Linked DNA regions of Homo sapiens. The protein of the gene in region 7 purifies or fractionates together with the protein of the main gene of each other region. This does not show direct contact. Each region holds a gene or a part of one and is shown on either strand. Other genes may lie near its edges.

Evidence for each region.
Region 1: the proteins of TUBGCP3 (region 7) and ANXA13 purify together in Homo sapiens (affinity purification with mass spectrometry; 2 studies listed by BioGRID and IntAct, with this or other methods). This does not show direct contact.
Region 2: the proteins of TUBGCP3 (region 7) and MTMR1 purify together in Homo sapiens (affinity purification with mass spectrometry, with the first as the bait; one large-scale study listed by BioGRID). This does not show direct contact.
Region 3: the proteins of TUBGCP3 (region 7) and UQCRH purify together in Homo sapiens (affinity purification with mass spectrometry; one large-scale study listed by BioGRID and IntAct). This does not show direct contact.
Region 4: the proteins of TUBGCP3 (region 7) and CAPNS1 purify together in Homo sapiens (affinity purification with mass spectrometry, with the first as the bait; one large-scale study listed by BioGRID). This does not show direct contact.
Region 5: the proteins of TUBGCP3 (region 7) and OMA1 purify together in Homo sapiens (affinity purification with mass spectrometry; one large-scale study listed by BioGRID and IntAct). This does not show direct contact.
Region 6: the proteins of TUBGCP3 (region 7) and CCP110 purify together in Homo sapiens (co-immunoprecipitation; one large-scale study listed by IntAct). This does not show direct contact.

What each region holds. Positions count from the first base shown.
Region 1 is NC_000008.11:123,702,894-123,706,393, reverse strand, and holds part of ANXA13 (annexin A13), read left to right. Parts: intron 1-3,500.
Region 2 is NC_000023.11:150,734,896-150,738,395, reverse strand, and holds part of MTMR1 (phosphatidylinositol-3-phosphate phosphatase MTMR1), read right to left. Parts: intron 2,933-3,500; coding exon of another isoform or gene 2,897-2,932; exon of another isoform or gene 2,695-2,896; intron 1,802-2,694; coding exon 1,616-1,801; intron 1,155-1,615; coding exon 948-1,154; intron 1-947. UniProt on the Homo sapiens protein: Lipid phosphatase that specifically dephosphorylates the D-3 position of phosphatidylinositol 3-phosphate, generating phosphatidylinositol. Could also dephosphorylate phosphatidylinositol 3,5-bisphosphate to produce phosphatidylinositol 5-phosphate.
Region 3 is NC_000001.11:46,306,698-46,310,197, forward strand, and holds part of UQCRH (cytochrome b-c1 complex subunit 6, mitochondrial isoform 1 precursor), read left to right. Parts: intron 1-2,403; coding exon 2,404-2,430; intron 2,431-3,199; exon of another isoform or gene 3,200-3,284; coding exon of another isoform or gene 3,285-3,347; intron 3,348-3,457; coding exon 3,458-3,500. UniProt on the Homo sapiens protein: Component of the ubiquinol-cytochrome c oxidoreductase, a multisubunit transmembrane complex that is part of the mitochondrial electron transport chain which drives oxidative phosphorylation.
Region 4 is NC_000019.10:36,143,066-36,146,565, forward strand, and holds part of CAPNS1 (calpain small subunit 1), read left to right. Parts: coding exon 1-63; intron 64-2,740; coding exon 2,741-2,809; intron 2,810-2,910; coding exon 2,911-2,989; intron 2,990-3,130; coding exon 3,131-3,247; intron 3,248-3,500. UniProt on the Homo sapiens protein: Regulatory subunit of the calcium-regulated non-lysosomal thiol-protease which catalyzes limited proteolysis of substrates involved in cytoskeletal remodeling and signal transduction. Essential for embryonic development.
Region 5 is NC_000001.11:58,536,727-58,540,226, forward strand, and holds part of OMA1 (metalloendopeptidase OMA1, mitochondrial precursor), read right to left. Parts: intron 2,585-3,500; 5' UTR 2,569-2,584; coding exon 2,069-2,568; intron 16-2,068; coding exon 1-15. UniProt on the Homo sapiens protein: Metalloprotease that is part of the quality control system in the inner membrane of mitochondria. Activated in response to various mitochondrial stress, leading to the proteolytic cleavage of target proteins, such as OPA1, UQCC3 and DELE1.
Region 6 is NC_000016.10:19,526,942-19,530,441, forward strand, and holds part of CCP110 (centriolar coiled-coil protein of 110 kDa), read left to right. Parts: intron 1-925; 5' UTR 926-940; coding exon 941-1,081; intron 1,082-3,500.
Region 7 is NC_000013.11:112,550,154-112,553,653, reverse strand, and holds part of TUBGCP3 (gamma-tubulin complex component 3), read left to right. Parts: intron 1-3,500. UniProt on the Homo sapiens protein: Component of the gamma-tubulin ring complex (gTuRC) which mediates microtubule nucleation.

The DNA.
Region 1 (3,500 bases), on a different chromosome or scaffold from region 7:
CCTGCCAGGATCCAGGCCTGAGAGGCCAAGGCCCTCGTCTGGGACAGGAGTGGCCTGAATGGAAAGAAAGAGGTAGGCTCAAGAGATATTTACAAGAAAAAGAAATCCCTTTTGAAGTGAGATTTCTGACACTCCGAAGTTTTTTTTTAAAAATCATAATAGTGTCATAGAATGAGTAATTGGATTCCCACGATGGAGGCGAAGCTCCGGGAGGAAATGAAGGAGGACAACGTGAATCCCAGTGTTGAAACCAAGCCAGCACCAGGCAGGCAACTCACTCCTGCTATTTTTGCAAGTGAGATCCTCCTAGAATTCTGTTTCTCCAATTGAAACCAAACAGCTAAATGTTCCCAGAGCTGTAGAGGTGAAAATACTCTTTGAGGTTAAGTGAACGGTTCAAGGACCCAAAGGTTTGGAACATGGTTGTCACATCAGACCCCTGCTCAGGCCTGTCTTTCCAAGTCGCCTCTCTGTCTTTCCAAAGCTGACTCTGAGGGCTGGTGCTGGAGCAGAAGGAGGGTTAAACAGCTCACATTTTTTTGCCAGGGCTCCCTTTTTTTTCTCTACCCCATCTCCAGCTAGTTTCCCTCCATTCATTTCCCATCCCCATGGCCTAGATTTTTCCTACTCTCAACCCTTCCATCAAAATGCATTGCACGATCTTGTTCCTTCAGGATCCTGATGGCTCAGCTGGGTGGCAGCCATCATCTAGGTCCACACACCAACCAGAGCAAGACAGCAGTAAGTGACACTGTAACAGCACACACTGCCATGTAGTGGCCACTCCCTAGAGCCCAGGTGTCGGGCTCAGAATGTCACTACTGCAGTCTTGGATAATCACTGCAGTGATCCTAGAAACATACATGTAAATAGTGTGCTGTGCCAAAACAGAGGAAGCAGAAACTTAACAAGTGTGGCTGAGATTAGGTGAGTAAGCCTTGGGCTGCTCTGTGCAGAGATGGATCTAGAAGAGTAGCATGACACCAAACTGCGGGAAGTCTCGATGCCACCATAAGGGATTCTGATGTAATTCTAGGAGTCAAGAGGAATCACTAAAGGTATTTAAAGTATGGTGTGAAGTGAACACATGCGAGCTTCCCAGGGTGGACTGCAGAGATCAGAGCCTGGTATCGGGGTGAAGGCTAAAAACACTTAGGACCTGTTAGGCAGTGACAGAAGGAATGAAGAAGAGGAACAGGTAAAAGAGTTGTCTCATAGGTGAGACAGGCAGGACTTGGTAGTATTTGAGAGTAAAAAAGACTGATGGGCCCTCAAAGGTGACTTTGGATTTTCTCTAATCCGTGTGATGCCATGCACTGAGACAAAGGAACAGGATGAGGAGTGGATTTAAGGATAGACAAAATGAGTTTGGTTTAAGCTACAATGGAAGTTGAAATGCCTTGGGAGATCCGTGGGAAGTTGACTACAGGCAGCTGGAAATAAGATCTGAACTCAGAGGAGAGATTAGGGCTAGAGGCGCTGATCCTGGAGTCATCAGTCAAAGGGCGAAAGTCGCCTGGGAAAGGAGTGACTCCAATAGAGAGGAGAACTGAAAATCGAGTTTAAAAGGCCAGTGGAAGAATACAGGCCAATCAAGAACCCTGAGAGGGAGGTGATGGAGAGGAGAAAGGAAAGACTGGGAAAGGAGGTACAAAGCCATCTAGGAAGGTGTTTCACGCAAAGAATTGTCAACCGCAGGCCGGGTGCGGTGGCTCATGCCTGTCATCCTAGCACTTTAAGAGGCTGAGGCAGGTGGATCACCTGAGGCCAGGAGTTTGAGACCAGCCTGACCAACATGGTGAAACCCCATCTCTACTAAAAATACAAAAATTAGTTGGGCATGGTGGTGGGTGCCTGTAATCCCAGCTACTCGGGAGGCTGAGGCAGGAGAATTGTTTGAACCCAGGAGGTGGAGGTTGCAGTGATCATGCCACTGCGCTCTAGCCTGGGTGACATAGCCAGACCCTGTCTCAAAAAAAAAAAATAATTCCCGACTGCAGAATTCAAATGCTGCAGAACAGTCAGGTACATGCAGGAACCGAGAAGAGGTGCTGCATTGTGCCTCAGCTTCCTCTTCTGTAAAGAAGAGCTTGGACTAGATAGTCTCTAACATTTCCTCCAGCTCCAGAGATTGCTGACTGCTGTGCCTTGATCCCACCGAGCTCGATCACTGGGGTGAGCAGTTCATGGAGGGTGGTCCCTGTGCACACCCTGCATGGATGTGAGGCAGTGCCAGGCGCGTGGTCATTTACATCCCCTGGTGTCCCGGGTTTCCCACGTGCGTGCTTAGGACCACCGCGGACTGGACCCACACTTGGATTCTCGCATTTCATTCTCACAATAGCCTTGTATACTATTACCCTCATCTTAGAGGTGGGAAAACTGAGACTTGGCAAGAAAAATCACTTGCCCAATGTCATGCAGTCGGTACAGGGTGGAGCTGTGATTTGAGTCCAACCTGAATAAATCTAATGTGGGGTTTGATGGTAAAACCGTCTTTCTTATTCGCACACTGGAAATACCTGTGTCATCTTTCCGATCCTGGTTCCTGGTTCAAACAAGGACATTCTCCCCTTCTTTCTTATTCACTATAGTTTTCAGTACTGATCAAATTGCTGCCATGAGCTTGTATTACTTTGAGCATCAGGGGTAAAAAAGCTTCTAAAAATAACATAATCTAAAGGTAATAGGAGTTAAAAGGGGCAACCTCCCTTCATGGTTTCAATCAAGACTTCTCTCCTGAGATTAACAAATGTATGGGTGGGGTTAATATTGTAACAGTTTCAGCCTATATCCTAATCTTGTTCATGCAATTGTAAGCACCCAGAGGCCAAGGAACAGGCCATCTTTTTCCTTTTTGTTTTTTAAAACATTTTAATTGAGATATAATTCATGCACCATATAATTCACCCATTTAAAGTGTTCAATTCAACAGTTTTTATTATACTCACAGATGCATGCAACCACCACCACAGTCAATTTTAGAACATTTTCATCACTTCAAAAAGCAGCCCTGGACTCCAGCTACCATCCCCCTAGGCAGCCCACCCACCCCCAGCCACTAGTATACTTCCAGCCTCTGTATATTCTCCTGTTCCGGACTTTCATACGAATGGAATTATATAACATGTGATCTGCTATGATTGACTTCTTTCACTTAGCATAATGTTCTCAAGGTTCATCCATGTTATAACATCTATCAGTAATTTATTCCTTTTTCTGGCCAAATAACATTCCATTGTATGGATACCCCATATTTTGTTTATTCATCTTCAGGTGATGAACACTGGGGCTGCTTCCACGTTTGAGCTATTATGAGTAATGCTGCTATGAACATTCACATGCAATTGTTGGGTGGACATATGTTTTCATTTCCCTAGGAATAAAATTAAGGAACCAGCCATACTCGTTCCTCTTTCCACCACAATGCCTAGCACTGTGTGCCATGTGCTGTGAGGCCTCAATGGCTATTTGTCTAAGTGAATGAAAAGAATACAGTT
Region 2 (3,500 bases), on a different chromosome or scaffold from region 7:
CAAGCATCCATCAGCAGATGAGCAGATAAACAACATGTGGTATATACACACAAGGGAATACTATTCAGCTATAAAAAATCATGAAAATTTGATATTTGTCACAACATGGATGAACCTTGAAAATATTATGCTTAGTGAAGTAACTCAGTCATGGGAGGACAAATACTGTAGGATTCCACTTATATGAAGTACCTAGAAAAGGCAAATGTATATGAAGACAGAAATATTAGTGGTTGTCAGGGGCTGGGGGAAGTGAGGAATGACTGTTTAATGTGTACAGCATTTCCTTTTGAGGTGAAGAGTACGGTTTTTGTTTTGTTTTGTTTTTTGAGACGGAGTTTTGCTCTGTTGCCCAGGCTGGAGTGCAGTGGCATGACCTCGGCTCACTGCAACCTCTGCCTCCCAGGTTCAAGCAATTATCCTGCCTCAGCCTACTCAGTAGCTGGGACTACAGGCGCCCGCTAACACATCTGGCTAATTTTTGTATTTTTAGTAGAGACGGGGTTTCACCATGTTGGCCAGGCTGGTCTCGAACTCCTGACCTCAGGTGATCTGCCTGTCTGGGCCTCCCAAAGAGCTGGGATTACAGGCCTGAGCCACCGCGCCTGGCCAGAGTATGTTTTCAAACTAGAGGTGATGGTTACATAATACTGTGAATTTACTAAAGGACACCGAATTGAGCATTTTAAATGGTTAATTCTATGTTATATGAATTTTACCTCAATTTTTTAAAAAGGCATAAATACACTAAAATAAAAACGCCCTATGAGGAACATACAATGCCTGAGGTCCATGTATTTTATTATGGCAATTCAGGTCTGATATGATACAGAAGAGAAAGCCTGCACGTGTGTGTGTATATATGCGCTTACGTGTGTCACACATGACGTTTACATCCATATGATACCGCAAAACAGTCCAGCATAAACCTCACTGTCTGAACTTACCAGTGCAAACCTGTGTCCAAAGCTTATCCACTCCTTTTCTACGAGAGTTTCAAATCCTTTAATGGTCCTGTAGTAACTGTCCAACATTAGCATAGCCAGAGATGTGAGCTGGGCTGTTCGGTCCCAACCGTCGCTGCAATGCACCACCACAGATGTTTTCCCAGATTCTATTTTATCAGCAATTCTTACTGCCCCAGCAAGCAGCATCTTCAGAAAAAAAAGGCACATTAGACCAGGCTACATTGAATTTCAATTAAATGTAAAACAATGTAAAATAATTCTGGGGAGAGCTTTGGAAGTTCTGGTCAATAAACCAAGCAAGAATGGCAGGCAATCAGCTGAGAATCACTAGGAAATATTAGCATCACATTAAAAAAATAAAAAGAAAAGAAAAAATCTTATACTGGAGAAAAACTACAGGAGTAAATATGGTTCCTTATTAAAGGGCCACGAAGTTCTTTAAAAGCCTGACCTAAGGCAAGCATTTTTCCCTTTTCACTATGTCACAAAAGCCCTCCACAAAGACCCCAGTCTGATGCTGTCCATGGAAACTATTGAATAAGAAAGTTCATGCACACAGCCAAGAGGCACTTGGAGATATACGTATTTATGGCACAGGCACAAAGAAGTCTTAACTGGAAAGCATATAAAGTGCTGGATCTCTTTACCCTTATATATTCCAGCCAATGCGTCCCATCCACATTGGAGAGCCACCGCGCCTCATCGATCGAAGGGTACACAATCTCTTTTAATTTGCGTAGTGACTCTCGCATGACATGAATGTTGTGGATCTCCAAGAACACAAGTTCTGCATTTGGGTAAGCACTTTCACTTTCATATCCTCCACCCTTTGTCTACGAAAAACAAAACAAATACATCACATTATCTGGAATTAACTTTTCTATTCTTTCTAGTGCTATGAGATACAGACCACTAAAGAAGCAACAAACTCATCTGCAAATAAACCTCCTATATCCTTGTATGAGTTTCCTAGGGCTGCTGGAAAAAGAACCACAAACTCAGTGGCTTAAAACAACAGAAGTTTATTCTCTCCTAGTTCTGGAGGCTGGAAGTCTGAATTCAAGGTATCGGCAGTGCCATGCTTCCTCCGAACACTCTAGGGGAGGATCCTTCCTTGGCTGCCCCAGGTTCCGATAGTCCCAGGTGTTCTTGGCTTATACACACATCATTCTGATCTCTGCCTCCATTTCCACCTGACCTTCTTTCCTTTGTCTGTGTCTGTCTCTTCTCCTCTTCTTCTAAGGACACAGTCATTTGGCTTAACCCCCACCCCCCAATTCAATATGACCACATCCTAACTTAATTACATTTACAAAGACCCTATTGTGAAATAAGGCCACATTTATAGGTACTTGGAGTTAGGACTGCAACATATCTCTGAGCTAACAGTGGGATGTGCTTAAGGAACTGAAAAGAACCTCACATAGCTGAGACATGGACCTGGAAGATGTGGCGAGACAGGAAGGAAAGGACCCGTGGGTGGAGGGCTTTGGAGACCCTGTTCAGGAACCTGGATATCACTGCCTTGCGGCTCTGAGGGATGTGCACAGAGTTGTCCACTGAGAAGATCACTCTGTACAACATGGTGACTACAGTCAATAACAATGTAGTCTGTATCTGAAAACTGCTGAGAGTAGATTTTAAGTGTTCTCACCACAAAAAATGGTGTGTTAATTAGCTTGATTTAGCCATTCCACAATGTGTACACAATCAAAATACCACGTTGTACACCATAAATATATACAATTCATTTATCAATTGAAATAGTAACAATAAGTTTTTTTTAAAAAAGAAGATCACTCTGGTCATAATGTGGAGATGAGATTGCAGGGTGTGAGGCAGAAGTCCAATTTCAAGGTTCCTGCTGTAGGTGAGGTAAGAGATGATGGGTCATCCAAAAACTAGAAGAGGAGGGCATACTTCCTAGTTCATTCCATGAGGCTAGCTGTATCCTGATACCAAAGCTAGACAAAGACATCACAAGAAGAGAAAACCACAGATTAACATCCCTTATGAAAATACATGCAAATATCCTCAACAAAATACTAGCAAACCCAATCCAAGAGTATATGAAGGGGACTGATCACATACCATGAACGGGTGGGATTTATCCCAGGAATGTAAGGAGGTTTTATTAGCTTCCTAAGGGTGCTATCACAAACTGGGGGACTTAAAACAACATAAAATTTATTCTCTCACAGTTCTGGAGGCTGAAAGTCCGAGATCAGGGTGCTGGCAGAGTTGGTTCCTTTAGGAGGGTATAGGGAAGAATCTGTTCCATGTCTCTCTCTTAGCTTCTGGTGGTTGCTGGAAGTCCTTGGCACTCCTCAGCTTCTAGCTGCATCATTTAAATCTCTGCCTCTATTGCCACATCGCCATCTTCCTTCTGTGTGTGCCTGTGTCTCTACATGGCTTTCTTATACGGACACTAGGCACTGGATTTAGGGCCAACCCTACTCCAAGATGGCTTCATCATAATTAATACATCTGCAAAGATCCTATTTCTAAATAAGGTCACATTCTGAGGTTCCA
Region 3 (3,500 bases), on a different chromosome or scaffold from region 7:
ATTAAGAAACCTTGTTAATGAAAAACTAGAATTTACATCCTAAATAGCATCTTCATATTTAGAAGAAACCTTTGCCAATTGTGAGAATAAATAGCCTGGATTCCAAATTGAACCTTTCCTACCCCTCACTCCCAGCTTGTATGAGCTTTGGTGGCTTCACTGAATGGCATGGTAGAGGATGAAACATGTATTAGGACTTTTTTTGGAGACGGGGTCTCACTCTTGTCACCCAGACTGGGGTGCAGTGGTACAGTCATAGCTCACTGCAGCCTCAAACCCCTGGGCTCAAGGGATCCTCCCACCTCGGCCTTCTGAGTAGCCATGACCACAGACGTGCGCCACCATGCCCGGCTAATTTATTTATTTTTGAGACGGAGTCTCTCTGTCGCCCAGGCTGGAGTGCAGGGGTAGGATCTTGGCTCCTGCAACCTCTGCCTCCTGGTTTCAGGTGATTCTCCTGCCTCAGCCTCCTGAGTAGCTGGGATTTCAGGCGCGTGCCACCATGCCCAGGTAATTTTTGTATTTTTAGTAGAGACGGGGTTTCACCATGGTGGCCGGGCTGATTGAGAACTCCTGACCTCAGGTGATCTGGCCACCTCAGCCTCCCAAAGTGCTGGGATTACAGGTGTGAACCACTATGCCCAGCCTGTTTTTAATTTTTTTAGAGATGGGGTCTTGTCATGTTGCCCAGGCTGGTCTCAAGCAGTCCTCTCACCTGGCCCTGTATTGGAGTTCTGAAAACATGATTCCTGAGCTAGTTCTTTTTATTTCCCTAGATACCTTTTCTTTCCTTGCCCCCAAATGTGGGTATCTGCATGCACAGGCAGGCAAACACCTTATTTCTGAGGTCAGATTTTACTATATCCCAAATTTAGGCCTAAACTGTTGCTCCCATGGGCAGTTTTTTACACTACTATCCTTGAAGAAGAAGGAAACTAAGTTTGAGGTTGTGCATTTGAATCAGAAGTGAATAGGTGGGGTCTGTTCTGTATTTCCAAGCTCATGAGTGGAGTTGTGCACTTTTATTTGATATACTTAGTCTACTAGGGGTTCTGGGAGTTCAGCAAGCCAAAAAGCAGTGACTAACCATCCTTAGTTAAGCTCTGACCAAACAAGGGTTTTTAGGTTTAGCAGTTTTCATATTCCTAATTCAAGTTCACAGTCTAGAAAAAAATGGGTTTTCCTCCTAACTTGGTTTGGGATGTAAGGACTAAATTTTGCTATTTGTAGCAATACTGGGACAAATACTTTAGATTATGTAGGCCCCATGTGAACATCTGGCAGCTTGAATCTGTATCAGAAAATGTCTAATTACTGTTTATTATCTCTAAACTGGGATTACCTCCTTAAGGGACTGTTGTGATTAATTAAATCATAAGAGATATGAAGGTGCTTTATAAACTGGAGAGTATTAAGCACACTTAGGTTCTTGTTAATGAAAGTGAGATGGTGTCTCTGTCTTGAAATATACCTGGGATTCGTTTTAACCAAGTATGGTAAGGTGACAGACCTGGAGACAACCGCCTTTGAAAGAAGAGTTTATTATTACTTAAATTTCCTGAAAGAGAGGGATATGCCACACAAAAAAATGCAGAGCTATATGGGGAAGTGTCTGAGCTCGTCAGGAGGCAGAAGGTATGAGGGGAAGGAAGCATGGCTCAGCACCTTGGTTTCTATGGGAAGGAATTGGTGGGCAGCGTAGGTACACTTGCTCAAATTTAGGATTGGATAGTTTGAATAATTTCGTTGGGCTCTAGCTTATAGGGCTGGTTCCTAGTTGTCCTATATTTGTCCCTGGGGTGATTTAGAGAAGGGGAAACAGGAGCTTAGTGTACAAAACTTAGATAAAGGAGGCAGGGCCAGGCTGAGTGGCTAATGCCTATAATCCCACCACTTTGGGAGGCCAAGGTAGGAGGATTGATTGAGCCCAGGAGTTTGAGAGCAGCCTGGGCAACATAATGAGACCTTGTCTCTACCACAAAGAAAATTTTTAAATTAGCCAGGCATGTGGCGTGTGCTTATAGTCCTAGCTACTCAGAAGGCTGAGGCAGGAGGATCACTTGAGCCCAGGAGTTTGTGGCTGCAGTGAGCTATGACAGAGCAAGACTCTGTCTCTTAAACAAAAGATAAAGGAGGCAGTTTGCTACAAGCACTTTGGATAGTTACGTTGCATATGAAAGGTATGCTCGCAGGCAAGTTTGCTGTCTAAAAATTAGCCCTGGAAGAGCAGGATTAGCTCCAGGATTAGCAAGGCCTCTAAAATGTAAAAACATCATAAAACACAGAAAACAAAATAACATCGTTAATAGTGTCAGTGTCTATCGTCAGTAATTACATCAGTATGATCAGGAATAAATATGTCATAAAATTGCTGCTGACATTAATTTTGTTTTCCTTTTGTAGGAGGAAGAGGAAGAGGAGGAATTAGTGGTAAGAACTGTCTCAGGTTTGGAAACATCTCAGTAAAAGCAGGGTTTGAGCTTCATGAAATTCTAAGGGCATTTTAAGGAGTTTTTACTTGATACCTTGTAGATAATGGGGGTGGAATAAGCTTTGATACTTCCTGTGCAGTGGAGAGTTTAGGGTGTGAGCCTTGGAAGCTGAGTCTGTTCTGGGTTTGGGGCTTCTTCAGTTGTGGTACCAGGGAGCAGATGGCATCTTGAGGGCCTGGCACTCAATCATCTGCTATTTGTGGTTTAATAAAGAACTTTGGGCTAGGCATGGTGGCTCGTGCCTGTAATCTCAGCACTTTGGGAGGCCAAGGCAGGCGGATTACCAGCCTGAACAACGTAGAGAAACCCCATCTCTACTAAAAATACAAAATTAGCCGGGCGTGGTGGCACATGCCTGTAATCCCAGCTACTCGAGAGGCTGAGGCAGGAGAATTGCTCGAACCCGAGAGGCGGAGGTTGTGGTGAGCTGAGATTGCGCCATTGCGCTCCAGCCTGGGCAACAAGAGCAAAACTCCGTCTTAAAAAAAAAAAAAAAAAGAACTCTGAAGGAACCTTTGTTAGATAGTCCTTCTCTATGTTAGCATTGCCTTTCTAGTTGGGCAGCTGGGGTGCATAGGCCTGGTTCTCAGACAAGGGGATTTGAAGTTTCAGACGTGTCATATTCCAAAATGCTGTGTTAACAAGTAAGGCCTCCTATAGATCTACTTCAAGTTTGGCCAGGTTTCCTTTACCACCTTGTTTTTCAGATAGGACTGAGGCTTTCAGTGCATACTGGCAACCTTGGAAGGCAGGAATGTGAAACTTTTCCCTACTACTTAGCATCAGAATTGAATGGGAGACCGCATTCTGCCATTTCTGGCGGCAGTGTGGCTCTGCCAGCTGGCCTTCTGCACGGTAATTCAGAGGCAGCACCTTGGTTTGGTGGTTGTGTTAATCAAAGCATATGTGTTTGGTGGGTCTCTGCTAAAAATGCCCATTTTGTTTTTTTTCTGTTTCTACATCAGGATCCCCTAACAACAGTGAGAGAGCAATGCGAGCAGTTGGAGA
Region 4 (3,500 bases), on a different chromosome or scaffold from region 7:
CCTGATCTGAAGACTGATGGTTTTGGCATTGACACATGTCGCAGCATGGTGGCCGTGATGGATGTATCCTTGGGGGCAGTGTGGGAGAGGCCCTGGGTGGACAGAGAGTTTTTTGAGAGTATGTTTGGGAAGCCAACATGTAGCTTTCATATCCACAGATGTGGAAATGCATTCATCAGAACACAGTCACCTGCAGACATGTGGCGGTAAATCATAACAATGCCAGCTGTCACAGCTGGCACTTTAATTATATAAAGTGACCGAACCGTCATAACCACCCTGTTGGACAGGCACAATTATTATATTCCATTTTACAGAAGAGGAAACTGAGGCTCAGTTTCCTGAAAGAAGCAGTCATTTGTCTCAAGTTATAGATAAAGGTCAGGCATGGTGGCTCATGCCTGTAATCCCAACACTTTGGGAGGCTAAGGTGGGCAGATCACCTGAGGTCAGGAGTTTGAGACCAGCCTGGCCAACATGGTGAAACCCCATCTCTATTAAAAATACAAAAATTGGCCAGGCACGGTGGCTCACACCTGTAATCCCAGCACTTTGGGAGGCCGAGGCGGGCGGATCACGAGATCAGGAGATTGAGACCATCCTGGCTAACACAGTGAAACCCTGTCTCTACCAAAAAAAAAAAAAAAATTAGCCGGGCGTAGTGGCGGGCGCCTGTAGTCCCAGCTATTCGGGAGGCTGAAGCAGGAGAATGGCGTGAACCCGAGAGGAGGAGCTTGCAGTGAGCCGAGATCGCGCCACTGCACTCCAGCCTGGGCGACAGAGCCAGACTCTGTCTCAAAAAATAAAATAAAAATAAAAATAAAAATAGGCCGGGCGCCGTGGCTCACGCCTGTAATCCCAGCACTTTGGGAGGCCGAGGCGGGCGGATCACGAGGTCAGGAGATCGAGACCATCCTGGCTAACACGGTGAAACCCTGTCTCTACTAAAAATACAAAAAAATTAGCCGGGTGCAGTGGTGAGCGCCTGTAGTCCCAGCTACTCGGGAGGCTGAGGCAGGAGAATGGCGTGAACCTGGGAGGCGGAGCTTTGCAGTGAGCCGAGATCGCGCCACTGCACTCCAGCCTAGGCGACAGAGAGAGACTCCGTCTCAAAAAAAAAAAAAAAGAAAAAAAAAGAAAAATAACAATAACAAAAATTAGCTGGGCGTGGTGGTGCACGCCTGTAGTCCCAGCTACTCGGGAGTCCCAGCTACTCAAGCAGGAGAATTGCTTGAACCCGGGAGGCGGAGGTTGCAGTGAGCAGAGGTTTCGTCACTGCACTCCAGTCTGTGGACTCAGGTCTTTTGGGCTTGAGAACCCACGTTTATAACAGCCACATGCGCATATACACACACACACACCTAAGAGCACACCCACATACGTGAAGGTGTATGAGGCAGTGTGCACAGGGACACACGTGTTATCTGTACATGGGCCAGCCATTAGCTGATCTTGGATACATGCATATTTTTATTTATTTTTGTTTTAAAAAATATTTTATAGAGAAAAGCTTTCACTATATTGACCTGGCAAGTCTCAAACTCCAGACCTTAAGCAATCCTTCCGCCTTGGCCTCCCAAAGTGTTGGGATTACAAGCTTGAGACACTGCGCCTGGCCTCATGCACATTTAACACATAGGGCAAACAGACACATACATAATATACATGTCATGTAATCACAGACATATTGCATAGAGCAAAGCAATCCCAACTCTACCTCTTAACCAGGTTATTGAACCGCTCTGTGCCTCAGTTTCTCTCTCTGTAAAATGGGTGAGTGATAATGGTGATACCGAATCGGAACTACATCCAAAAGGTTTAGCACAGTGTATAGCGCATAGTATGTGGTCTGTACACATTAGCTCTTAACTATGATCTTGGGTAGAGTTTTCAGCTTTGAATGTTTTCTTCTCTGGAAATAGTCCTGGTAGAACTGGTGTCCCAAGGATTTAGTGAGAAAGTGATGTTCCTGAGTGGACATCAGGTGGATCCTGAGTTCAAGCGATCCACCTGCCTTGGCTTCCCAAAGTGCTGGGATTACAGGCATGAACCACCATGCCTGGTCACACACTTGTTTTTCACATATCCTAACATTTTTATGAAATTGAGTTACTGTCAAGAATTTTCTTTTCTTTCTCTTTTTTTTTTTTTTTTTTTGAGACAGAGTCTCACTCTGTTTCCCAGGCTGAAGTGCGGTGGTGCCATCTTGGCTCACTGCTAACTCCACCTCCTAGGTTCAAGCAGTTCTCCTCCCTCAGCCTCCTGAATAGCTGGGATTACAGGTGTGCGCTACTACAGCTGGCCAATTTTTGTATTTTTAGTAGAGACGGGATTTCATCATGTTGGCCAGGCTGGTCTCGAACTCCTGACCTCAAGTGAACCGCCTGCTTCGGCCTCCCAAAGTGCTGGATTGCAGGCGGGAGCCACCGTGCGTGGCCTATTAAGAATTTTCTGAATGAGCAATTAACAACTCTTCAGGCAAGGAATTTGTACTTTAGAGTAGTTGAATATAATTCCTCATGGTTATGTTTAAAGAGAATCCCTATTTAGAAATGTAAGTGACAATATGTATGGATAAAATGAAAAATAAAACCGCACACCAGGTGATATGACTAGGACCAAGCGGGAGCTGGAGTTTCAGCCCTGGCTGCCCTGCTTGCTGTATCACCATCGTGTCCACAGTGCATGTGATGCATGCATCTGGGTGTAGCTGTCACTCTTCTTAACACCCTCCCACCAGAGCGACACCACAGGCAAGCTGGGCTTTGAGGAATTCAAGTACTTGTGGAACAACATCAAAAGGTGGCAGGTGTGTAGAAACCTCTGAAATCCCTGGCACCCAGACCCCCAAGCCATGGAGACACTATGCCCCACAATGCTCACTTGGACCCAATGTCTCTGTCCTCACAGGCCATATACAAACAGTTCGACACTGACCGATCAGGGACCATTTGCAGTAGTGAACTCCCAGGTGCCTTTGAGGCAGCAGGTATGGCTGGCAGGGACATGCTGGGGCTGGGAGTGGGATGGGTGAGAAAACCTCTACTCAGCTGGTCTGGGCCTGACTCCTGGGCATGGGAGTGGGTTGGGCCATGTGGCCCCCGCACCTGAAGGACTACATCCATCTTAGGGTTCCACCTGAATGAGCATCTCTATAACATGATCATCCGACGCTACTCAGATGAAAGTGGGAACATGGATTTTGACAACTTCATCAGCTGCTTGGTCAGGCTGGACGCCATGTTCCGTGAGTGACAACCCAGCTGTCTTCCTGGGTGGGGATTCCTATGACCTCTATGGACCAAGGTCTCCTCTAAGCCTGACTTTGAGGTGGGCGATGCTAGGGGCACAGTGGTGATTGAATCAGTTCCAGTTTCTGCCCTCATGGAGCTCACAGTCTGGTGGAGGAGACACAAGTCCCCAGACAGTGACAGTTCAGACTGGTGATGGCTGGGAGAGGGGAAGCTCAGGGCAGAGTGATGGGTTGTGATGGGGGCAGC
Region 5 (3,500 bases), on a different chromosome or scaffold from region 7:
CATTTCCTTATGCCCCTAAAGCAAAAAGAAAAATTCAAAGTTCTGAAAATCATTCCAGCACATATCACTAAAGCTCAAATGCATACACTAGAATTTTACGTCCTCAAATACCTGAATTTGTATGATGTATTTCGCTGAATACATCGCTTTTCCAATTAATAAAATTCTTAGCTAAATGATGAAAAAATAATCAATGATGTAAAGTTACAGTTAAAAAATTCTAATACTCATCGAAATTTTCTTCTTCAGCTATTTTAAGGATAAACACTAAATGAGATGCTAGTTTACTATAACTACCACTGGTTAATATTTATTACTATCTAGTACATGCAAAATTCTCTCTCTCTCTCTCTCTCTCTGTATATATATATATACCATCTCATTTAATCTTCATAATAACCCTGTTACAGAAGATAAAATTGTTAGGTAACTTGTCCATGGCCACTGAGGTAATAAAAGGAAAACCAAGCAATGAAGGCAATGACATTCCAGAGTCTGACCACTTAGCCACTTAATAGGGATAAATGCCTAAATAATTATGTAAGAGGTTACAGTACAATAAATCTATACCTGGAACCACTACTTTTCCCACTGCTCCTCAGACCTCCAACACAATTTGCCAGTGATTCCACAAGGTACAAGGGAAACTGCCTCAGCATTCATTTTGGAAATAAATAGTGCTCAGTAGCAGAAACTCCACTATCCTCTTTACAACGTGAAAAAGGAGAGATAACAAGATCCTAGGTATTCATAAGAAAGTGGGAGATTTTATAGATAACATCTGAGAAGGTCCAATTTCTACCAGGCAACAATACTCTCTGCCACTTAGCAGTGTTCAGAAACATTTTGACAACAAGCAATGTTTTCAATACTGGGACAAAAATTTTCCTTATGAGTTGATCTGTAAAATCACAACAAAAATTTACCATATATACATCATTCTCTTGACAAAAATTTATTTTACAAATTCTTAAAGTTCTCTTTGTGAAGTGACACACCCCAATGCCTTTACACAAAGTGTGTCCATTTAAAGGGACATAAATCAAACTATCGAGTATACTTATTTCCTATTTAAAACTTTACATGACATTATCCTTTATTTAAAATGTATGAAAGACATATTCTAAATGAAAAATTTTAGGTGATCAACAATAGTAACAAAAACAAGAAAGTTACAAATAAATAATTTAAAAGGATGAGGACATAGCAGAAATCAGAAAGAGCATCCGAAGAACCTGGGATGAGCGTATTACTTCAACCAATAGTCAATACAGCTGTATCGCTTTTGGGTGCCAACACCAAATCATGAAAAACACAATAAGTTACAAATAGAAGTTCTTGGTTTTTGATCAAAAGCAAACTGGTTTGGTTCATGTGGTAGTAAGAAGGCTAGAAGGGACTTCACAGTCATCAAACACAAGAAAGCTTTATGAAGAAACAGTGATTAGCTTTCTTCCATCTTCATAAAACAAACAAGAGAAAAAGGGTTAAAGCACTACAAGCTGTGAAAATATTATTATAAAGGATCACCAAGGAAAAAAACAAAGATTTGTTGGGAACAGAATAGAAAGAAAAGAAGCATTAATGACTTAAGAGTTAACTAGGAGTGAGCCCACCCTTATATAAGCAAAGTTCCTCAATTTTATGATTTGCTGCCTTAAATTCCACAAATTAAAAAGAAATGTTTGTAAGTACTCTTCTTATACATAAGTGATAACCAGCACTTCTGATCCATATATCCTAAGATTTTGTAGTCATAAATATAAGATTTTTTTAATGCCTATACAAAATGTAAGAATAACTTTTTAAAGAGATATTTCTATACCATAAATTAGTATGCAGGAAATTGTTTCAAGATTATTAAATCATACAGAACAAAATTGGGCAGGACCTACTGTTTAGAAACTTCACTTTGAGCTAAATGGGGGGAGACAGGGGATCTGGCAAGGTTTCTTTAAAAGTACAGTTTTATAAATAAAAAAATTAATTTCTAAAAGTTAATACGTTAGCACAAAATATTAATGCAAAAAGTTAATATAAAAGTTTTTATTCTAAAAAAGCATTTTACCTGCCTACAATGATTGCAAATAACTTCTGTACTGGTTTAAGAATCATCAACAAGAGAGGAACCGGAGCAGCTTGAAACCGTGGAGAAGTATGGAAATTCCTAATAGCTCTTATGGAAGCAGGGCTTAGAGGATGCAATACTGACAGACTAGGGACTGCTGTAACTTCTTTTATTAGCAGCTGTCTTGAAAAAGCATCATTCCATACAGTACATTTGCTGGTAATCCTCCAAATTTCCTTACTTTTGGTACTTGAGAGGCCTCCTGTTCTTTTGTTGTTAAAAGTACTATAAAAATGAAAGTTTCCAGGCAGAAAACTCCACCTGTCACACTGATTTACTCCCAGTCCCTGATACTTATTTACTATATGGTTAACTTGTACTTGATGACAGCCCCGTGAGGTGGATGCTAATGTGTTACATTTTCTCCAGTTAGACAGTGAATTAAATCGGAAGAAAACATGGTTTCTAGCAGCAGACTGCAATCCACAGATGAAGCTCATTTTTTCACTTGACTACCTGAAACAAAAAAAAAACTATAAATATCTGTGGAAAATATTTACTTACCAAACTGGGACTATAACACTTATTAAATAGGCGTGTCAGTTGTTCTTCTAACACATCTCAGGCTAAATTACCTTGGGTTTCAACTCATCACCCCTAGAGCAACGCCTTTCAGCAAGATAAACCAGAGTATATATACCACGATATTTACTATGCAACGTTTACTTTAGAAGCTTGAATTTTTTTCATTTCATTTTTAATTTTTAGTTAGGGAAGAGCCATTTGTATTTTAATGGCAAATGATTTGAGCAATAAAGTGGATTAGATAAAAACAACAGTAAAACTTTATCAGTTTGCAATAACTGGAAGGAAGCATGTGATACAGAATAGTAAAATCTAACTTATAAAATGCACTGGACATTACGCAATGAAGAACAGTGATCCCTAACAGATGGGAAACAGAGCCCTACAACTGTCCTAGCTTATTGCCTGGAGAGTGCTTCCAGGCCACAATGCAGACAGGGTAAACCTAGGTGGAGCCCAGTGGTTCCCCTAAATCGAAGAGATAAAGCTGGGAGGTCAAGTAAACCAAGGTTGCTAGAGCTCACAGGACAGAGGACAAGAGAAGACAAGAGCTGCACAGAGAAATAACTCTAGAGTTCTGCAGAGAATCCCCCTCCCATATTCAGCTGAGTCCTGTCTGGGCATATGTGTAAGAAAATTCCCTGGAGCTGGGAAAGGGCCACCTGAAAAGATTGCAGGGAATAATATACAGGGCTCACACAGGGCATGGTATACTGCCTATCCCCTCCCCACCATTCAAAGTGGAAAACCTTATCATTCGTGGGTAGAGTACTCAGAAGGGTTTTGCCTCAACATTAGAGAAAGATTAGTCTGAGACCGAAAGCTGCTCTGGCCCCACCTAACAAAT
Region 6 (3,500 bases), on a different chromosome or scaffold from region 7:
TTTATTTTCCCTTGCTTATTTAAAGGAAACAGTGCCACACATAATGCTGTGCAAATAAGCAATCAACATTTACTGTTTGCTAAATGAATGAATATGATGCCTAATCCCTCCTGGTTACCTTGTATTTTCATAATCACAATTTCCCAGAAACTGTGAAATTACTGGGATTGTTTTAAGTAGTTTGGTGATGGTTCCAATTTTCAACAATAAAATATAATTAATATCAGAGCCAATCGATTTGCTCTTTTTTACCTCTGACTGAGTTGGCTGGTGCTCATGCAGTCCAAGTATAGTGTTAAGATAGGCAAATTGAGGCAGGAGGATTGCTTGAGTCTCAGAGTTTGAGACTATAGTGCACTGTGACTGAACCTGTGAATAGTCACTGGAATCCAGTTTGGGCAACATAGTGAGACCTTGTCTCTTTAAAAAAAAAAAAAAAGATATGAGAGTAACCTCTGAACTTCAAAATAGAAAATTTTTAAAAGTAAATATTCTTTGATTTAAGTAGGCTTTTTTACTACAGTGTTTGTACCTTTGTATGATATAGTTTTTCTTGTGTAGATAAGTCCTGTTAAAGAAAATATAATATCCTGTTTTACAATGTGAAGTTAGTAAAGATTTACAGAACTTTGTTTCCTTTAAGAAGGTTTTACTGAATTCTTAGCTAAATTAATCCCATTTAAAGATTGATTTACATGCAATAATATTCAGAAATATTTAATATATAAAGTAAATCTTAATTGGACAGGTTCTTGAGGTGAATTACCATACCCAAGAATTAGCTCCTGATCAGTAAGACAATTCTGGGAGGACCAGTTATAGGAATTGTGAATTATAGGGACTCTCTCATGCTCTACAAAATCTGCCAAATAATTAAGATCTGTTTTTCCCAGTACATTAAAAATAACATTTTTCTCTCTTGTAGTGTGACTGTGGGAAGATGGAGGAGTATGAGAAGTTCTGTGAAAAAAGTCTTGCCAGAATACAAGAAGCATCACTATCCACAGAGAGCTTTCTCCCTGCTCAGTCTGAAAGTATCTCACTTATTCGCTTTCATGGAGTGGCTATCCTTTCTCCACTGGTAAACTTGCTTTGTTTTTAAATAGTTTTTTTCTGTAGTGAACAACTAAAACAGTTCGTGGAAAAACAAAAGAAAGGCTTATAAACATTTGAAGAGATGCCCTCATTCAGAATTAGAGAAATACAAATGAATTAGCATTTTTTACTTACTATTATAGATTGGCCAAGACCTAATAGAACTTTGTGTTCCTTAGATTGTGGAGAAAATGCACTTTTAATGCACTTTTGCTAAGAGAATCAGTTTATTTTATTTCTAGATGAGCAGTTTGGTAGAATTTAAAAGCATACATAGCCTTTGGGTCAGCAGTTCCATTTTTGGGTATATCCTACAATTATATGTGAGCCCAAAGAAATAAGTACAAAGTTACATTAGCATTGTTTAAAATAGCAAAGGTTGACGAACCACCTAAATGTCCATCAGTAGTGGAGTAGTTTAACTATGGTCTATTTTATAAACTCTCATACATACCATTACAGTAAGGCAGATGTAAATGTTGAGGCATGGAAGGATCTCAATGATCTAGTGTAAAACACCGTGTGCAGCATGCTGTCAGGGGCAGTATAGAGTCATGATTAGAGGTCCAGACTCTGGGCCAGGCACAGTGGCTCACACCTATAGTCCCAATGCTTTGAGAGACCGGAAGGAAGAGGATTGCTTGAGACCAGGAATTCAAGACTAGCCTGGTCAACATAGTGAGACCTCATCTCTATAAAAACATGTTAAAAAATTAGCCTGGCGCAGTGACATGTGCCTGTAGTCCCAGCTCTTCAAAGGCTAAGGCGGAAGGATCGCTTGAACCTAGGAGTTGCAGGCTGCAGTGAGTCAGGATTGCATCATTGCCTGGACTACAGAGAAAGACCCTATCCCAAAAGAAGGAAAAAAACTCCAGCCTGGGCTAACAGAGCAAGACCCTATCCCAAAAGAAGGAAAAAAAAAGTCTAGGCTGTGGAGCCTTCTGGCCTGGGTCCAAATCATTGCTTTGCTACTTACTTGCTGTGTAAACTTGTGGTCCATTTTCTTATTTGTTAAATGGGGATAAAATAGTGCCTACCTCATAAGGCTATTTTGAAGATTAAATGAATTCGTAGATATAAAATGGTTAGAATACCACCTGGATCATAAGAGGTACCCAATATAAGTTAACCATTTGGGTTTTTCAAAGGATGGCTATTCCTTTTCTGGGGAGTGGTGAGAGAATATAGGATAATAGGGAAGACACTTCATCATACACCCTTTGATACTAATTGGATATTTTAAAAATGCATATGACTTTATTTTAAATCACAAACTAATATTAGAAAAAAGTGAGCTTTAAATTTATTTTTTGGTATAACAGGAGTTAAGAGATTAATTTTAATTAATTGAATTGAATTTTTAAAGACACCAGAGCTAACTGCCAACTTTTTGTAATGAAACTTTCAAACATACAGCAAAGTTGAAAGGATAGTGCAGTGACCACCCATAGATTTACCATTAGATTAAATAATTTTTAACATTGTTGTCATCTTTGCTTTATTGTGTTTGTGATTTTTATATACATCTATGTGTGTGTGTACATATGACATTTTTAAAAATTGCCTAGCTATTTGAAAACCACGGAGACCTGACACTGCTCCCCTAAATATTTTGGTGTACATCTCTTAAAAATAAGGACATTCTCCTATGTAAAGCCCCAATACCATTATCACATCTTAAGAAAACTAATAATTTTTAATAATATCTAATAATTCTGTTCATATTTAAATTTTTCCATTTGTGCTCAAAATGCCTTTTATAACTTTATTCCCCCAATCTGGATCCAAAGTTCACAATTAGTATTTGCTTGTTATGTTTCTTTATTTTAATCTAAAATAGCTACTGTACGTCTTAAAAACAGTTTTTTTTATTGGTTGAGCATGGTGCCTCACGCCTATAATCCCAGCACTTTGGGAGGCTGAGGTGGGTGGATTGCATTGCTTGATCCCCAGAGTTTGAGACCAGTCAGGGCAACGTGGTGAAATCTCATCCCTACAAAAAATACAAAAAAGAGCTGGGTGTGGTGGCGCGCACCAGGAGTCTCAGCTGCTCTAGAGGCTGAGGTGGGAGGATCACCTGAGCCCGGGAGGCTGAGGCTGCGGTGAACCCTGATCATGCCACTGCACTCCAACCTGGGTGACAGAGTGAGATACTGTCTTTAAAAAAATAACAAAACTATGATACTGAATTTTTAAAGAGACCAGAGCTATTGTCTTGTAGAATTCCTTAGATCTTGGATTTGTCCCATTGTTTCCTAATAGTGTTATTTAACTTGTTTCTCTAGTCCCTGTAGTTCCTATGAACTGGAAGTGAAGTTTGATAAACAGGTTAAAGATTTTTGGAATTCTTTGAAGATAGGGCTGGGCGGGGTGGCTCATGCCTGTAATCCCAGCACTTTGGGAGG
Region 7 (3,500 bases):
GGTGAGGCAGGATTTGGGAACACTGCCGAAGCTGGAGATGGGAATCCTGGCTATGGCTGTCTGGACAGCCCTGGGTGGGCACTGCCGATGGCACAGTGCATGGTTGGGAGGGAGCTGCTGCTGCTTCTCCTCCTGTTGGAGCCTGACAGGGGGCAGCTAATAGGAGCCGTGGCATCTCCACTGTCCAGCCCTTCTTTGTGGCTAAGCAGCATGTGGTCTTGTCCATAGGTTGATTATTGGGCAGTAATTACTGCCAATGAAATCTCCAAAAATTATTGAATCACAGAACAACTGTGTACTATAAGCTCAGCGTAGCACAGGACTTATGGCAGCGTAGCTGGTGGGTAGGAGGGTGGCTGGTGAGTAGGAGCGTGACTGATGGAGAAGAGCATGGCTGGTGGGGAGGAGTGTGGTGCTGTAGTGTGGCTGGTGGGCAGGAACGTGGCCGGTGGGTAAGAATGTGGCTGGTGAGTAGGCACTTGGTGTGGCAGTGTGGCTAGTGGGTAAGAACATGGCTGGTGATTAGGCATGTGGTGTGGCAGTGTGGCTGGTGGGGAGGAGCATGGCTGGTGGGTAAGAACGTGGCTGGGAGTAGGAGCATGGCCGGTGGTTGGGAATGTGGCTAGTGAGGAGGAGTGTGGGTGGTGGGTAAGAATGTGTGGCTGGTGAGTAGGCGAGTAGTGTGGCAGTGTGGCTGGTGAGTAGGAGCATGGCTGGTGGGGAGGAGTGTGCTGTGGCAGCGTGGCTGCTGAGTAGGAGCATGGCTGATGGGGAAGAGCGTGGCTGGTGGGGAGGAGCGTGGCTGGTGGGGAGGAGTGTGCTGTGGCAGTGTGGCTGCTGAGTAGGAGCATGGCTGATGGGGAAGAGCGTGGCTGGTGGGGAGGAGCGTGGCTGGTGGGGAGGAGTGTGCTGTGGCAGCGTGGCTGCTGAGTAGGCATCACACTTTGAGCTTTGAAGCGAGGCAGCCCAGGGTTCTGGTTTGGGCTTCTCCTGTAATGGTCACGTCATCTTGCCCAGGTTATCTTCTGTTGGCCACAAGTTTCTTCCTGCATAGAGTGGGGTAGTGATTACCTCTAGGATTGTGAAGGTGGGGAGAGAATGCGTATAAAGATGCTGCTTCCCAGTCTAGTACTGTTTTCTGTTCTGTTTGCCAGTCTAGTGAATTGCTCGATGACCAGCCACCACTCTCCCTCATTGCAAGGGCAGATAGGAGTGAGCTGGCTCTTTCTCGAGGCAGGTAGGACTGGTGGGCCGTCCCCTCAGGAGCCAGCTGTAATTTTAGAGTCCCTGTCCCTTTTCCCGAAGGGAGTGTTTTATCATGTCTGGGTTTATATCATCATCTTATGCAAGTGTCACTGATAGGTCCCAGTCAACTTGATAGACATGAAGCAAAACACACACACAAAATCAATACAGGATAACTAAACCATTATGTAGATATTTTATTCCAGGAGATGGATTGATCATCACTATAGTAGTATCATATTATGTTTTATAGCAGGGGTCCCCAGTTCCTGGACTGTGGACCGGTACTGGTTCATGGCCTGTTAGGAACTGGGCCGCACGGCAGGAGGTGAGTGGAGGGCGAGCAGGCATGACCGCCTGAGCTCTGCCTCCTGTCAGATCAGTGATGGCATTAGTTTCATAGGAGTGTGATCCCTGTTGTGAACCGTGCATTCAAGGGATCTAGGTTGCATGCTTCGTATGAGAATCTAATGTCTGATTATCTGAGGTGGGAACAGTTTTATCCCAAAACCACTCTGCCCCCCCATCCCACCCTGGTCCGTGGAAAAAATGTCTTCCACAAAACCAGTCCCTGGTGCCAAAAAGGTCGGGGACTGCTGTTTATAGTACTGGACTTTAGAGGCTCTTCTTTTATCTTCTTTCTCCTTATCGATTATCATAGCAGCCTTCTAAAATGATCAGGGCAAGCATTAATTGTCCCCATTTTGCAGATGTGAGAATTGAACCTCAGCAAGTTTGATTGATTTGACCAAGTTGCCCTGACTAGTAGATGGCAGGTATGGACTAGGGTGTGACGTGTCACTCTGTTCCAAAGCTGTCTCTGTTCTTCCATTTCCTGCTGTTTGGAGTCATTGCTTGGTGCCATCCAGTTGCTGAAGGAGTGATGGTTTATTTATCTTATTTGAAGAGCCAGCGTGTGCTCTCAGTGGGGTGACCGTGTGCCCTAATTTATGCCTTGCATAATTTATGTCCTGTGTCAGTATTACCAGTGCCCACAATTAGCCTTGGAGGTGTCCTGGCTCTAGACATACCAAATGGAGCAAAATCATATATGAATGAAGATACTGTTTTGTAAGTGTGAAACTTACATGTGCATTTAATGAACCAAGGTGGAAACAGCCTCTGCTAACCACAGGCCTTTTCCCTCTGAGTGTGTGTGGCGCTGCCGCGCTCTGCCTGCACTTCCACTCTTTTGGTTGTAGACTTCTCAGAAGCTGACTCACATACACCTGTATATAAATACTTAGATTCTACACGTTGGATAATGATTTGATTATTTCAGCAGGTTTTGTTTTTGTTTTTTTTTTGAGACGGAGTCGTCTCGCTCTGTCACCCAGGCTGGAGTGCAGTGGCGCGATCTCGGCTCACTGCAAGCTCCGCCTCCCATGTTCACGCCATTCTCCTTCCTCAGCCTCCCGAGTAGCCGGAACCACAGGCACCCACCACCACGCCCGGCTAATTTTTTTGTATTTTTAATAGAGACGGGGTTTCACTGTGTTAGCCAGGATGGTCTTAATCTCCTGACCTCATGATCTGCCCGCCTTGGCCTCCCAAAGTGATGAGATTACAGGCGTGAGCCACCGCACCTGGCCGCATATTTCAGCAGGTTTTTCAAAGCTTTGATGTGTTTATGTGTCTGCTCTCCTGCCCTGGGGCTGGGATGGAGTTTTGGTAAAGAGTGATGCTGTGCCTGAGCAGATTCCATGTCGTTTTCTCTGTAAATATTACCTAAGAAAACTGACCTATGGTTTAGTAAGCACCTTTGTGCCCACACTGTGCCAGGCGCTTGCCCTACGTTACCGCATTTATTCTTCCTCCCTTTGTAGATGAGCCTAGAGGTTCATACCGTCAGGGGCTGACACGTGGCGGTACCTCCAGCGGGAGCCCTGGATTTTTACCCCCTGGTCTGTCTCATTCCAGACTCTAGGACGTTTCTTCTTGCACACCTCACTTTTGACGTGTCCTTTTGTGTCTACAAAATTAGTATGTTTTATGTTCATTTTCATACTTGAAAATGTTCACATTTGTCTTAGTCCACAAACCATAAATGCAGTAAAATACACCTATAGGTGACTGCTGATATATTTTAAAAATATACAGAAAGGTATGCAACCTACATATTTACTTAAAGAAAACAAGTTTAAAAAACAATTAAAAAAAATTTTTTGATGGAGTTTTGCTGGATAAAACTGAATGAGAAAGAACACAGGTTTATCCCTTGCAGGCTGCTTCTGCTGTGGGCTCCTTGAACAGCA